Homo sapiens: one gene and its partner. The protein of the gene in region 1 interacts with the protein of each later gene in a biochemical or structural test. Each region holds a gene or a part of one and is shown on either strand. Other genes may lie near its edges. The genes, in order: GTF2F2 and DYNLT2B.

Evidence for each region.
Region 2: the proteins of GTF2F2 (region 1) and DYNLT2B form a complex in vitro, tested with the Homo sapiens proteins (one study listed by BioGRID).

What each region holds. Positions count from the first base shown.
Region 1 is NC_000013.11:45,266,702-45,270,522, reverse strand, and holds part of GTF2F2 (general transcription factor IIF subunit 2), read right to left. Parts: intron 3,291-3,821; coding exon 3,147-3,290; intron 1-3,146. UniProt on the Homo sapiens protein: TFIIF is a general transcription initiation factor that binds to RNA polymerase II and helps to recruit it to the initiation complex in collaboration with TFIIB.
Region 2 is NC_000003.12:196,290,630-196,294,472, reverse strand, and holds the end of DYNLT2B (dynein light chain Tctex-type protein 2B), read left to right. Parts: intron 1-3,098; coding exon 3,099-3,146; coding exon of another isoform or gene 3,147-3,169; 3' UTR 3,170-3,254; downstream 3,255-3,843. UniProt on the Homo sapiens protein: Acts as one of several non-catalytic accessory components of the cytoplasmic dynein 2 complex (dynein-2 complex), a motor protein complex that drives the movement of cargos along microtubules within cilia and flagella in concert with the intraflagellar transport (IFT) system.

The DNA of each region.
Region 1 (3,821 bases):
TGGCTTTATAAAAAGAGGGAGAGGAAGAGAGACCTGAGCTAGCACGCTCAGCCTCCTCACTAAGCGATGTAAAAAGCCTCTTACCAGACGTGGCCCTTTGATCCTGGACTTCTCAGCCTCCAAAATTTTAAGAAACAAATTATTTTGCTTTAAAAATTGCCCAGCTTCAGGTATTCTGTTATAAGTAACAAAAAACAGACTAAGATAATATATCTTTAAATGGATACTATGTCCCCGACTTTATATCAGTTACCAAAGCTTGGCCTCCTTGATGAGTAACTTTCACTCTTTCTAGTTGCTTATGTAAGTCACATACTGGCAAACAAGAGAAAAAGACGGGCCCTAAGCAAAGTTTCTCTAGCCAATAATTTTACTTATAGAAATGAAGGTTTTGGCCAGGAACGGTAGCTCACGTGTAATCTCAGCACTTCGGGAGGCTGAGGCATGTAGATCACCTGAGGTCAGGAGTTCAAGACCAGCCTTGTCAACATGGTGAAACCTCATCTCTACTAAAAATCCAAAAATTAGCCAGGTGTGGTGGTGGGCGCCTATAATCCCAGCTACTCAGGAGGCTGAGGCAGGAGAATCGCTTGAACTCGGGAGGTGGAGGTTGCAGTGAGCAGAGATTGTGCCATTGCACTCCAGCCTGGGCAACAAGAGCAAAACTCCATCTCAAAAACAAACAAACAAAACACCCCACCCCCAAAATAAATTATAATTTGAACATATTGGTAAATTTTATATTATTACATATGTTAAGTGAACTAAATATAAGTAATGTATTAAATGTATTTAAGTACCTTGTCCAGGACTATTTGGCTAAATGGTAGAGCTGGGACTTGAACTAGGATCTCATACTCCAAATCCAGGTTCTTTCCATTATACCAGAACACCCCCTTTCCTGGACCATTGATCTTCATGCTAGAATAGATTCCTCAAGTCTCTTGGGTACTGATGACCATTAGTACAGATTCACTTATGTCCTCGAATCCTTTTAAAGGGGGATAGTTGCCTACTTGGGGGAGAGCTAGACTTTGGCAACTTTCTTTCCCAGTCAATGGACTGGAATCCATGCTGACCACTTCCTGCCCTCTCCTCTAGGAGGAGGTAACTACCTCTGGCCTACCCCCAGCCTGGGGAAGGCATTCCACACTTTCTTGGCACTGGCTCTTTGCCCCAACCTCACTATAAATGACGTGAGAGGCCTGCCAAAATCCATCTGAAGAAAATATGGTGGCCCTTGGAGACTGAGGATTTTCTTTTTTCAAATCAATTCATGAGATATTTGCTGAATTTTTACCATCTTTTACACTATGGGGTATATGAATATTTAGGGATAGGAATAGCATACAACTCTGCCTTCAGGAATCTTATGCTTATTGAGGCAATTTAGTCTCTAAATAATAAAACTATTATTTAAAAAGTTAGTTTTGAGATCAGCGGCTTCTATGAGAATCTGATACAAACTATGGATGATATGTTCCCCAGAACAATTCATACATTTTTGCAGATTTTCAGGAAGTTAATGGATCCCCTTAAGTCCATCCACTGGTTAGGAATTAAGAAGCTCTGTTGTAAGAGATTCACTGAGTACTACCATATAAAAAATATCTTAAGAACCAAAACCAAAAGACACACTAGTAATACTTGTTCTTTGATGCAAAATGAATAAACCTTATATCCCATGTGAAGGCAAAGAAACTGCTTTCCCTAGTATCATCTGAATGCCCCTCTACAAGTGATTATTTTCCATATCTAATTTTTTGTGTTTAATTCCATGAGAATCTCGTCTGTTTTCAGAGTTTCTGGAAGGGTCTTTTCATACAGATATATTTATATATATAAATACAAAGATAAATTTCATTAAAACCAGAAGAAACACAGCTTAGCTAATGAGTTATTTATTCTATTTCAAAAAAAATTTTTAATCTAGCTTAGAATGCTGTTTCTAAGGCTTTGATGCCAAAGGGAGTGAAGTCATTGGGATGAATTGATAATACTCCACCATGAGCACTTTCTTCTTATTAAAAAGTAAATCTTTTGGAATTCAAATTAATTTCTTAACAAAAGGCAAGGGTTGATGTATAATAGTAAAGAAATATCTGCAGGAGAAACTGTATAATGAACATTAAAATTTCATAAATCATTTCCTAAAGCTTTGTATAAATAAAAAAAATCAAGTCCTTTCACAAATAGGTTATTTGGTTATGTTAAGATGTTTTTTAAAATTGGTTATTGTTACATATTCTGAATCCAATAAATGGAGCAGCAAGAATCAACAGATTCTTGAGTATACCGGCAGAGTAGACAAAATGGTAAAGGAAATGAGATAAAAGGGTTTCCATTCAATTTTCTTAAACCTATAAGTAAATACTCAGTCTGATACTTTGGTGACATGTGGTGGAGAAAGTTAAATGGAAAACAATGTGACTCAAAGACTAGAAAAAGAATTTGAATTTCTTATTGTTATCATCATTTTAAATGGATTATTAATGCAAATTACTAGTAAATGCACAAAAGCCTAGAGAAGAGATAAAAATGACTATAAAACAAACATAAACTTTCTAAAATACGAATTTGTTAAATTTGTCCTTAAAAATGGGGAACAGGCCAACCTAATCACAATCTCTGCAAGCATAATTTGAAAGTGCAGTTCAGTTCAGGTTTAAAAGGACCTACACAGATTCTAATTAAAAAAAAAAAAAAAAAAAATCCACAGAAAACAATTCACAAGACAGGGATAAACCCTCCCACAATGACAAAACAGTATAATTCTTTAAAGAATGCGATTTTTCTATGAGGCATGTTTTCCAAAAAAAGGGAAGGAGTTAAACTTTCTCAGAGGAAGATAGGGAAACAAAATAAAGACCAGAAATGGTATCAACAGATTTCAGGCTTAATGTCAAGAATAAATGAACATGAGGATAATTTCTTTTCTTCATAAATAATTATTAAGAGTACTAAAATGTAAAATAAAAGCTGATGTTACCAAAAATGGCTGCATTAAGACATCTTTTCTGAGTGTTGTCATAAAATTAGTCATTAGCATAGGTAAATGTGAACTAAATCATGTATGACACACTTTCAGTAATGTCGTGTTAATGAAGGAGGGCATATTCAAAGGATCAGTATGAACATATACATACCACAGGTTGCTTTGTGATGTCCACCAAGTCCTTAAGATTATAGTATTGATGTTTCTCAAAGGCTGAAAATAGCATGTCTAAAACATGTTGTTTATCAGCTCGAGCTCGCTTTCCGTCTTCTTTCTTTTTCCTTTCATATTCGATCTATATGCAAACAGCAAAGGAAATAAAAGCATCAATTCAACATGCTCACTCTAAAACACAGGCATTCTCTTTTTTTTTTTTTTGAGACAGAGTTTTGCTCTTGTTGCCCAGGCTGGAGTGCAGTGGCATGATCTCAGCTCACTGCAACCCCCACCTCCTGGGTTCAAGTGATTCTCCTGCCTCAGCCTCCCGAGTAGCTGGGATTACAGGTGCCCGCCACTACGCCTGGCTAATTTTTTGTATTTTTGGTAGAGACGGGGTTTCACCATGTTGGCCAGGCTGGCCTGGAACTCCTGACCTCAGGTGATCCACCTGCCTCAGCCTCCCAAAGTGTCGGGATAACAGGTGTGAGCCACCGTGCTTGCCCAGGCATTCTCTTTTGAGTCATCCATTAACGACTAGATCGTAAGTTTCGAGGCAGCAGGCCTCTGAACAGTAGTTCAGAACCTGGGACCTGTTACTCCTGGGGTCCCCGTATCTTTAAGGCTCTAAGTTAGTAATAATTCCAGTCACTTTCATTATCCCCTAAAG
Region 2 (3,843 bases), on another chromosome or scaffold:
AAGTTCCCCATGATTCTGCTGACTGCCAGATATGGACACTGCTTATGTAGATGATTTTAAGGTAGCTTTTAGCTCTAAAATTCTATGGTCTCACCAAGGTTTTATTTTTATTTTTATTATTTTTTGAGACAGAATTTTGCTCTTGTTGCCCAGGATGGAGTGCAATGGCACAATCTCAGCTCACCACAACCTCCACCTCCCGGGTTGAAGTGTCCTGCCTCAGCCTTCCGAGTAGCTGGGATTACAGGCATGCACCACCACACCTGGCTAATTTTGTAATTTTAGTAGAGACAGGGTTTCTCCATGTCGGTTAGGTTGGTCTGGAGCTCCCGACCTCAGGTGATCGGCCCGCCTCGGCCTCCCAGAGTTCTGGGATTATAGGCGTGAGCCACTGCGCCCAGCCCCACCAAAGTTTTATTTTATGCTTAACTACCCTAGGGATCAGGGGCTGGACAGTGGGAAGTACTATGTAAATCTTAATTTATCAGCTATCTTTGGGGGAATAGTCAAGCTAAGAAGATGGTTTTTTTTGCCAGGCACGGTGGCTCATGCCTGTAATCCCAGCACTCTGGGAGGCCGAGGCGGGCGGATCATGAGGTCAAGAGATTGAGACCATCCTGGCCAACATGCTGAAACCCCGTCTCTACTAAAAATACAAAAATTAGCCAGGTGTGGTGTTGGGTGCCTGTAATCCCAGCTACTCGGGAGGCTGAGGCAGGAGAATTGCTTGAACCTGGGAGGCAGAGGTTGCAGTGAGGCGAGATTGTGCCACTGTACTCCAGCCTGGAGACAGAGCGAGACTCTGTCTCAAAAAAAAAAAAAAAAATGCATCTTGTTTGTTTGTTTTGAGACGGAGTCTCACTCTGTCACCTAGGCTGGAGAGTGGTGGTGCCATCACGGCTCACTGCAACCTCTGCCTCCCAGGTTCAAGTAATTCTCCTGCCCCAGCCTCCCGAGTAGCTGGGACTACAGGTGCATGCCACCACGCTCGGCTAATTTTTGTATTTTTTAGTAGAGACAAGGTTTCACTATTTGGTCAGGCTGGTCTCCAACTCCTGACCTCAGGTGATCTGCCTGCTTTGGCCTCCCAAAGTGCTGGGATTACAGGCATGAGCCACTGGGCCTGGCCAAAAAATGCATCTTTAGATGATACAATTCATTCATTCAACAAATAGTTCTGAGCTCCTATTATGTGTCAGCTTCTGCACCTGAGGGGCTAGGGACAAAATGATGAATAAGACAGGCATGGTTTCTGCCTATTAACATCCAGTGGGGGCCACTCAATACTCAAATGAACAAATATGTAATAAAAAACTTTAGGCTGGGTGTGGTGGCTCACGCCTGTAATCCCAGCACTCTGGGAGGCCGAGGCGGGTGGATCACCTGAGGTCAGGAGTTCAAGACCAGCCTGGCCAACATGGTGAAACCCCATCTCTACTAAAAATACAAAAACTAGCCGGGCAAGGTGGCGGGCGCCTGTAGTCCCAGCTACTTGGGAGGCTGAGGCAGGAGAATTGCTTGAACCCAGAGGGCGGAGGTTGCAGTGAGCCAAGATTGTGCCACTGCACTCCAGCCTGGGCGAGAGGGCAAGACTCTGTCTCAAAAAAAAAGCACTTTATTTGGGAGATTCCAGGAAACATTAGTAGAGGCAGAGGAAATGAGAAAGGAGGGAAAATCATGTGGTATTGAGCGGAAAACTGCTGGATGACAGGGCTCAGTCCTGTTGGAGAACTCTGGGTGGTGCTGTAGAACAGGGCCACTCACAGTGGGGTGCACAGACCAGCACGGCTCTGTGACCTGTTTGTTACAGGTCCATGATGAGGTAAACAATACACTGAGTATAAGGGTTGGTTTAGAAACTCTTACAGCAATTTGACAAAGTAATCTTCTGTGCAGTGAATCTAAGAAAAAAATTGGGGCTGTATTTGTATGTTCCTTTTTTTCATTTCATGTTCTGAGTTACCTATTTTTATTGCATTTTACAAAAGCATCCTTCCATGAAGGACCGGAAGTTAAAAACAAAGCAGGTCCTTTATCACAGCACTGTCGTAGAACACAGTTCAGAGTTATCCACCCAAGGAGCCAGGGAGCTGGGCTAAACCAAAGAATTTTGCTTTTGGTTAATCATCAGGTACTTGAGTTGGAATTGTTTTAATCCCATCATTACCAGGCTGGAGGTGAGGTTAGTGGTGCAGGAGTTGCTGAGGCAGGTGGAAATCTTGTAATAAATGCCTAAAAATGTTTTAAGCAATTTGACTGGGCTCTGGAAAGCATTTTGTGATTCTGAACTAAAAGATGGACAAGTAAATTTTATCAATTAAGAACAAACACCCAGAGACTATTTCTCTTATCCAGAATTTATGACAAGGTCCTGTTGTTCTTATTATCAGTGATACTTATAATATGGTTTCTTGGGATGAGTAATGGAGTTTACTCCAAGAAACTCAAAGCATTTCATACATTATTTCTGTGATAAATCAGGAAATATGTGAATAATTATTTTATGAATATGTATTACCTAAAGTTCATTAGTTCACATTTTATTTTTGCATTCAGAAAATCTAATTCTTTACCCATCCTAACCTTTTAGCAAGCAATTTTGTAGTCACCCTCAGGCAAGCAATAGTGTAGCTATACTCTGGAAACCCTTCACTTCTTGAAGAAGGAAAAAGTCTTCCTGATTGAAAATTGGTGGCTGGGTGAGGTGGCTCACGCCTATGATCCCAGCACTTTTGGAGACCAACATGGGTGGATTGCTTGATCCCAGGAGTTCAAGAACAGCCTGGGCAACATAGTGAGACCTCATCTTTACAAAAAATAAACAAAATTAGCCTGGTATGGTGGCAGGCACCTGTGGTCCTAGCTACTCTGGAGGCTGAGGTAGAAGGATTGCCTGAGTGTAGGAGGTCGAGGCTGCAGTGAGCTGAGATCACACCACTGCACTCCAGCCTGGGTGATAGAGTGACACCCTGTCTCAAAAAAGAAAAAAAAAATTGGAAAGATCTGAGATGGTGTTAGTTTCAGTTGCCTGTGCTGCTCTCATTCCCTCTTTAGTACTAACATTCTGGATGTGTGTGTGTGTTGTATTTATTTTTTAGGACAGTTTATTCTGCGTTGTAGCAGCATTTGGCTGTTTCTACTACTGAATGAATCTTTGAAAAGCTGGTAAAAGACATGACCATGAAGAAATCTGAACTTTTTAATATTGTTAAATATCTTGACAAAATAAAGATGTTAGTAGTTTGACAACTGAATCTGTTGTGTTTTAGGCCTTATATTTTTAATGTTTTGATTTTGTTACACTATGTTCTGTTTCTTTCTTTCCTTCCTTCTTTCTTTCCTTCCTTCCTCTCTCTCTCTCTGTCTCTCTCTCTCTCTCCCTCTCTCTCTCTTTCTCTCTTTCTTTCTTTTTTTTTTTGAGACAGAGTCTCTCTCTGTCGCCCAGGCTGGAGTGCAGTGGCACAATCTCGGCCCACTGCAACCTCCGCCTCTTGGGTTCAAGTGATTCTTCTGCCTCAGCCTCCCAAGTAGCTGGGACTACAGGCAAGTGCCACCACGCTTGGCTAATTTTTGTATTTTTACTAGAGACGGGGTTTCACCATATTGGCCAGACTGGTCTCAAACTCCTGACCTCATGATCCATCCATTTCAGCCTCCCAAAGTGTTGGGATTACAGGTGTGAACTACTGCGCCCGGCCCTACTATATTCTTGTTACACTGGAACACAGAGAAAAAAGTAGGGGAAAAGCCATTTCAATTGTTCAAACATAACCAATGGTAAAAATTTTGGTATATTTTCTACCAATGTTTTTTATTTCCAAGGTTTAAAAAACATATAATTTT